Linked DNA regions of Homo sapiens. The protein of the gene in region 2 purifies or fractionates together with the protein of the main gene of each other region. This does not show direct contact. Each region holds a gene or a part of one and is shown on either strand. Other genes may lie near its edges.

Region 1 (3,757 bases), on a different chromosome or scaffold from region 2:
AACTCCAGAATTGAGAAAATGAATTCCATGTGTAAGTTTATAAAACACTCTATAAAGTTAAAATAGCAATTATAACTTCACAGAACCTTTAATAAGTTGATATACACTATGAATTTCCAAGAAATAATAAGCTGCTTTCACCAAACTTCAATGACCAACACACAAACCCTCCTCTACCCGGTCCTATTAAATCTCTCTGTAAAACAGAATGCAATTTGGAAAACAATTTGGGAAACTCAAGGTAGGCTGAAAAACATATTTCAAGAAGTGGTACCCGAAACAGATCTTACTCAATGTTCTTTTCTAAAATAAAAGCTATTACACCACAGCATAATATAATTCCAATAATAAAATAAATACCTTTTCTACTCCTCTGAGAAATTTGTCTGTTCCTGTATAGTTTCTCCTTGGATCTGTTAACAATTCACATAGTCGCTGAATAGTAAAAGGGATACTGCAAAAAAATATAATTTTACAGTGTGAGATCACTGATAATCAAGAAAACGAGGAACATTATTTCTTTTGCTAGGTAAAGCTGTATCTAGTCACCCATGTATTAAGCTACAAAAGAAAATGCTATAATAGGGAAATAAATGGATGAGTCATTTAAAAAAAGACAATAAAATAAGCATACCTTTCTATTTAACAAAAAAACCATTCTCCCTTCCTTTAAAAAGCAATAAAGGTGGGGGGGGAGGGAGGGGGGAATGGTTAACGGGTACAAAAATATAGTTAGAATGAATAAGATCTAGTATTTGATAGCACAACAGGTTGACTACAATAATTTATCGTACATTTTAAAATAACTAAGAGTATAAGTGTACTGTTTGTAACACAAAGCATAAAGAAACGCTTGAGGTGATGGATAACCCATTTACCCTGATGTGATTATAATGCATTGTATGGCTCTATCAAAATATCTCATGTACCCCATAAATATGTAAACCTACTATTTACCAACAGAAATTCTTTTTTAAAAAAAAAGCAACTTAGAACACCCAAAATCAACAGAAAGCTTCAAAACTGAGGAAAAAATTTTTATATAATAGAAAATTCTAAATCCTGATAATTTGATTTTTAAGTTTACAAGAGAGGTAACACAAATAATAATCAAGTTGGGGGTTATTTAATATATGTATTTTTCCTCAAGTATTCTTCTGCACTCAAAGGTTTCTTTAAAATGTTCAAACAAAACTACAAATATTTTAAATGTGGTTCTGCTCCATTATTGCAATTTCATATATAATCTAAGTTTAATCCAACTTAAAATATACACAACTTTTATTTAACTTTACCAAATAATTTCACTATACCTCAATTTTTCCTTGACCACAGTAAATACAAAACTGATATAAGTTGGAACTAAAATCATTTTATAAATATTTTTAAGTTTTGAGCTCATGTAGCTATTAGCATTCATAAGAATTACAAGCTGAACAGAACAGCAAAGTTATGAGCACGAGGTACGACAAACGCAGCTAACAAATACAAACAAATCTTCAGACTTCAGTGTCTGCCATACCAATCTATTTATTCTCTTTAATGAAAAGAATTACAAAGCCTCAAATTAATAGTTAACATTCACAAAGGTCTTCATTTTTTATAGGCAGTGTGATACAGAATTTTCTTCCACCACAAGGTATAGTAGTTAGTGAGTTAAAATGCCAGGACTCAAACTCAGTCTCTCTAACTTCAAATCTCATGTCCTTTCCATTGTACCACACGTATTTTACAAAATTATAGTTGTTTATTTTCTAACTGGATAAACTACATTTGGTTCTCATATTCTTTGTGTCAATACTATTCTTATGTTCAAAGTATAAGATGTGCAAAAAATTCTGAAAGTGCTTAAAGTGCATGTTATTCATATGAGAACAAATGTTTTTAGATAAATTTGAGAGTCCAAGAATCAATCTTTTGTCTCAAACCTAAAATCGAATCCAAACCTAAAAGTGAGAAAACTGTTCTACCAAAAGACAAGGCACAGAATAAAAGATTAAATGTTTGCCTGATATTCCAAACATTCAGAAGCAACTAGAAATTCCTCTGGGTTTCTGAGGAAGAATACTTTTTTGCTTTTGAAAATCTACTCAGAGTGAAGTACAATGTCAAAATGAAGAATCCTTTTAAATGGGGAAGTACAAAGCACACCAACAGCGTTACTAAGTATGAAACAATAAGCTTATACATCTTTTGTTTCATTCCTATAAAGACAACCATTAGAAATCTATAGCTAATACACAAAACTAACTCTACTTTAAAAATGTTTAAGCATTTTCCACATGTATAACAAACAGTATTAGTTTCTCAATTGTCTGTCCGTGAAACCCAGTATTATCGTGGATTTCAGATTAGTGGTATAACTCACCTTAGCTCCTCTTCTAGTTCATGGCTCTTCAAACCTTACACACACAACACACCTAAGCTATTTCCTCATTAATCACCCCATAGTGATACTGTCATTAAAATTTATTATTCAAAATATACAAAATAGCACCAACAGTTTGGGTATTCAACAAGTGTTTGGGTATTCAAATAGTACTTAACTGAAAAATACTGTCTAGTCATTATGCTTTTTCTTCCTACTAAAATTCTTTCCCACATTAAAACCTAATGTTTTCTCACTAATTAAAATTAGTTTTAACAGATGAATATTTTAAAACTTCTTGTTTAACAACATGTACACTGAATGCTTTGGCTAATTTTCTTTAGAAATGTAAGTTAAATTGTAGCCAATTATTAATATTTTATGTGTTGTTTAATATTAATACTGCTTTGGGAGGGGGGTATGTGTTTACATAGCAATACCAGCAATGATAAAACGAGTTTAAGTTCTTAGACAATTTCAGAAGCTTTTTTCAAAAGATCCTTATTTCAAAAAGTAAAAGAAGCTTTAAAAGTCATTTTACCAAGTATCCAATAGATGGCACTAAAATGTCACACAACACTTCCTTTTCTCACACGACAGGCTAAATCCCAACCAAACACTTTCTGCAAATCAATGGATCCACTGGAAATATTAGTATGATAAATGAACGTAACAGCATTGAAAGGTCTCTTTACATACAGACTGTACTTTTAAACTTATTCCATAAATATAAGAGCCTATTATAAACTAGAAATACCAACCTTGTTCAACAGCAGTCAAAAGACATGTAAATAATTACAATTACAGTAATAAATAACAACACTGTATAAAAAGTGCCATGGAGACAGAATAAACTGTATGCCAAGCTTAGTAAGCGTGACACTGGGAAAACTTAGTGTGAGGTAGGCCTCTAAAAGGAGGCACAAGAATAAACCAGAAAAACCAGTACAAAATGAAAGCATTTGGTACAAGTATATGAAAGCTCTGCTCTCTGATACTCATCCATTAGACATAGCATACAAAATAGTTTATTCTAACTTCTGAAAATATTAAGGCTTTTCCCACACATACTAAGAAAAGCAAATATAGGGAGAGGAGCGTTAAACACACATGCCACTCATTCTCAATGAAAAGTCTATTCAGAAATCCTTAAATTTGGGGGGAAGTGGTGATCAGATGTTCATTAGCAAAGTTATACTGTAAAATAAAAAACCCTGGGCCAGGCACGGTGGCTCACGCCTGTAATCCCAGGACTTTGGGAAGCCGAAGCAGGCGATCCCCTGAGGTCAGGAGTTCAAGAACCAGCCTGGCCTGTAATCCTAGCTACTCGGGAGGCTGAGGCAAAAGAATTGCTTGAACCTGGGCGGTGGAGGTTGCAAGTTGCAGTGA
Region 2 (3,757 bases):
AAAGGGCACCAAGAATACACAACGGGGAAAGAGAACAGTCTCTTCAACAGATGGTGTTGGGAAAACTGGATATTCACATGCAGAGGAGTGACACTGGACCTTATCTCTTACACTATATACAAAAGTCAACTCAAAATGGATTAAAGACTTAACTATAAGACCTTAAACTATAAAACTCTTAGAAGGAAAATAGGGGAAAAGCTCCCTGACATTGATCTTAGCAATGATTTCTTGGATATGACATAGGCAACAAAAAAAAAAAGCAAAAACAAATACGTGGGACTACATTCAACTAAAAAGTGTCTGCGCTAAGGAAACTTTCAGTCAACAGACTGAAAAGGCAACCTATAGAATGGGAGGAGATATTTGCAAACCATATACCTGGTATGGGGTGAATATGCGAAATACATAAGTAACTCCTATGACTCAAAGCAAACAAACACACTCAAATAGTCCAATGAAAAAATGCACAGAGAACTTGAATACACATTTCTCTAAAAAAGATACACAAATGTGCTAATAGATATATGAAAAGACGATTATCACCACTAACCATCAGGGAAATGCAAATCAAAACCACAGTGAGATATCACCTCATAACTGTTAAGTTGGCCATTATTATTTTTTTTCTTATTCATTTTTATTATTATTATTATTATACTTTAAGTTTTAGGGTACATGTGCACAATGTGCAGGTTAGTTACATATGTATACATGTGCCATGCTGGTGTGCTGCACCCATTAACTCGTTATTTAGCATTAGGTATATCTCCTAATGTTATGCCTCTCCCCTCCCCCCACCCCACAACAGTCCCTAGAGTGTGATGTTATTCCCCTTCCTGTGTCCATGTGTTCTCATTGTTCAATTCCCACCTATGAGTCAGAACATGTGGTGTTTCGTTTTTTGTCCTTGCGATAGTTTACTGAGAATGATGATTTCCAATTTCATCCATGTCTCTACAAAGGACATGAACTCATCATTTCTTATGGCTGCATAGTATTCCATGGTGTATATGTGCCACATTTTCTTAATCCAGTCTATCGTTGTTGGACATTTGGGTTGGTTCCAAGTCTTTGCTATTGTGAATAGTGCCACAATAAACATACCTGTGCATGTGTCTTTATAGCAGCATGATTTGTAGTCCTTTGGGTATATACCCAGTAATGGGATGGCTGGGTCAAATGGTATTTCTAGTTCTAGATCCCTGAGGAATCACCACACTGACTTTCACAATGGTTGAAATAGTTTACAGTCCCACCAACAGTGTAAAAGTGTTCCTCTTTCTCCACATCCTCTCCAGCACCTGTTGTTTCCTGACTTTTTAATGATTGCCATTCTAACTGGTGTAAGATGGTATCTCACTGTGGTTTTGATTTGCATTTCTCTGATGGCCAGTGATGGTGAGCATTTTTTCATGTGTTTTTTGGCTGCATAAATGTCTTCTTTTGAGAAGTGTCTGTTCATGTCCTTCGCCCACTTTTTGATGGGGTTGTTTTTTTCTTGTAAATTTGTTTGAGTTCATTGTAGATTCTGGATATTAGCCCTTTGTCAGATGAGTAGGTTGCAAAAATTTTCTCCCAATTTGTAGGTTGTATAAAAGAAAAAAAAAGGTAACAAGTGGTGGTGAGGATACGGAGAAAAAATCCTTATACACTGTTGGTAGGAATGTAAAATGGTGCATCCACTATGGAAATCAGTATGAAAATGCCTCAAAAGATTAAAACTAGAAGTACCACATGATCTAGCAATCCCACTTCTGGGTATTTATACAAAATAATTGAAATCAGGATCTCAAAGAGATATTAGCACTCCCATATTCACTACAGTGTTATTCACAATAGCAAAAATGTGGAGGCCTGGAGCGGTGGCTCACGCCTGTAATCCCAGCACTTTGGGAGGCTGAGGCAGGCAGGTCACAAGGTCAGGAGATCGAGACCATCTTGGCTAACATGGTGAAACCCCGTCTCTACTAAAAAAAATACAAAAAAATTAGCTGGGCATGGTGGCGGGTGCCTGTAGTCCTAGCTATTCGGGAGTCTGAGGCAGGAGAATGGCATGAACTCGGGAGGCGGAGCTTGCAGTGAGCTGAGATCGTGCCACTGCACTCCAGCCTGGGCGACAGAGCCAGATTCCATCTCAAAAAAAAAAAAAAAAAATGTGGAAACAACCTCACTGTCCATCAACGGATGAGCAGATAAAGAAAATGTGATATATATAGACATATAAAGGAATATTCAGTCTAAAAGGAGAAAATCCTGCCATATGCAACAACATATATTAACCTCGAGAATATTATGCTAAGTGAAATAAGCCAGTCACAGAAGGACAAATCCTGCCTGGTTCCACTTATATGAGGAGTTTAAATAGCCAATCTCATAGACACAGAGTAGAATGGCGGTGAACTGCTGCTCAACAGCCATCAAGTTTCAGTTAAGCAAAACGAATAAACTACAGAGAGTTGCTGCACAACATTATACTACAGTTAACAGTACTGTATTGTATTCTTAAAAATAAGAGGATAGATCTTATATTGAGAGGTCTCACCACAATAATGATTTTTTTAAGTCAAACCCTGTCAGGAATTCAACTGAGATTCAGGAAAGCAAAAGACATGAGAAAGAACAAGAATAAAGTGGAGAAAATCGAGCAAAGGAGTAAATATCAAATGCAAGAAAACCAGAAATGTCAAAAGATGTATCAACAATTGACCAAACTGGAGATAGATATTAAGTAGCCAATGAACTGAACCTCCTAGCAAAAAAAAAAAAAAAAAAAAAAAAAAAAAATCAACAAGAAGAAGACAGGGAGAGTGTGGGCATGAGTGAGTGAGAGAGAGAGAGAGTGAGAGTGTTGTGTGTGTGTGTGTGTGTGTGTGTGTCTCAGCCATAACAGCAAACAAAACCACTGGGAATATCACGACTTGAGAATATTCAATACAAGGAATGAAAGCCCTGCCAATGTTCCCTAAAAGAACCTGGTATTTAAGGAAGAAACAATCCCCAGTCCAATATAATGTTCTGTGTAGTCTTCATGTAGGAGTCCAGGATCATCTCCACTGTGTTTTAACATCTGTATGTCCAGACTCTCCTTACTGTTAGACAGGTTTGGATTGGGGTCCATATTTTGAGAACATCTAAAAGCGATCCTCACCTACATGTGGCATGTGAAGCCCTGCTCGTCAAGAGTCAGTGCAGAAGTCACCAGCCGGTCTGGGGAATTACTTGTTTTATCACTGCACAAATGTGGCTAGCTTTCTTTACACCTTTGAGTTCCCAACATCTACCACAATACCTTGCACAGGGTAGGTTCCATACTGGCAAAGTGAAAAGGGAAAACAGAGGAGCTGTCTGGGGAAATGTGGATAGGAATCACCTATTGACAATTACTCTGAACATACTATCAGCTATTAGAGGCCAAGCAATGTGAACTCCACTTACTGCTTTTCTGAATTACGTAAAAACAAGAAGCTGTTAAGTATGCTCTTCCATCTGTCTTTTTTGTTTCCATGACAGAGATATTCAGCCAAGCCTTCCTTTAGTTGTGCTATTATCGCAGGACTTTTCTGTGCCCTCAGCATCTAATACTAAAAGTTTATTTTGTGATTTGACTATGAATTAGTGATGCTTTCTATTTGACATATTTCCATTTCCAATTGTGGAGTTTTTATTCACATTTACAAAATGGAGGTCTGGGATAAAGGACAAGTCTTTGGGAACTAAGTGGTTTTTTAATGTGATATTTACTGGAATCACAAGA

The links. Proteins that work in one complex are often made in the same cells at the same time.
Region 1: the proteins of CCDC6 (region 2) and PPP4R2 purify together in Homo sapiens (co-immunoprecipitation; 4 studies listed by BioGRID and IntAct, with this or other methods). This does not show direct contact.

Annotation. Positions count from the first base shown.
Region 1 is NC_000003.12:73,055,734-73,059,490, reverse strand, and holds part of PPP4R2 (serine/threonine-protein phosphatase 4 regulatory subunit 2), read right to left. Parts: intron 455-3,757; coding exon 361-454; intron 1-360. UniProt on the Homo sapiens protein: Regulatory subunit of serine/threonine-protein phosphatase 4 (PP4). May regulate the activity of PPP4C at centrosomal microtubule organizing centers.
Region 2 is NC_000010.11:59,794,832-59,798,588, forward strand, and holds part of CCDC6 (coiled-coil domain-containing protein 6), read right to left. Parts: intron 1-3,757.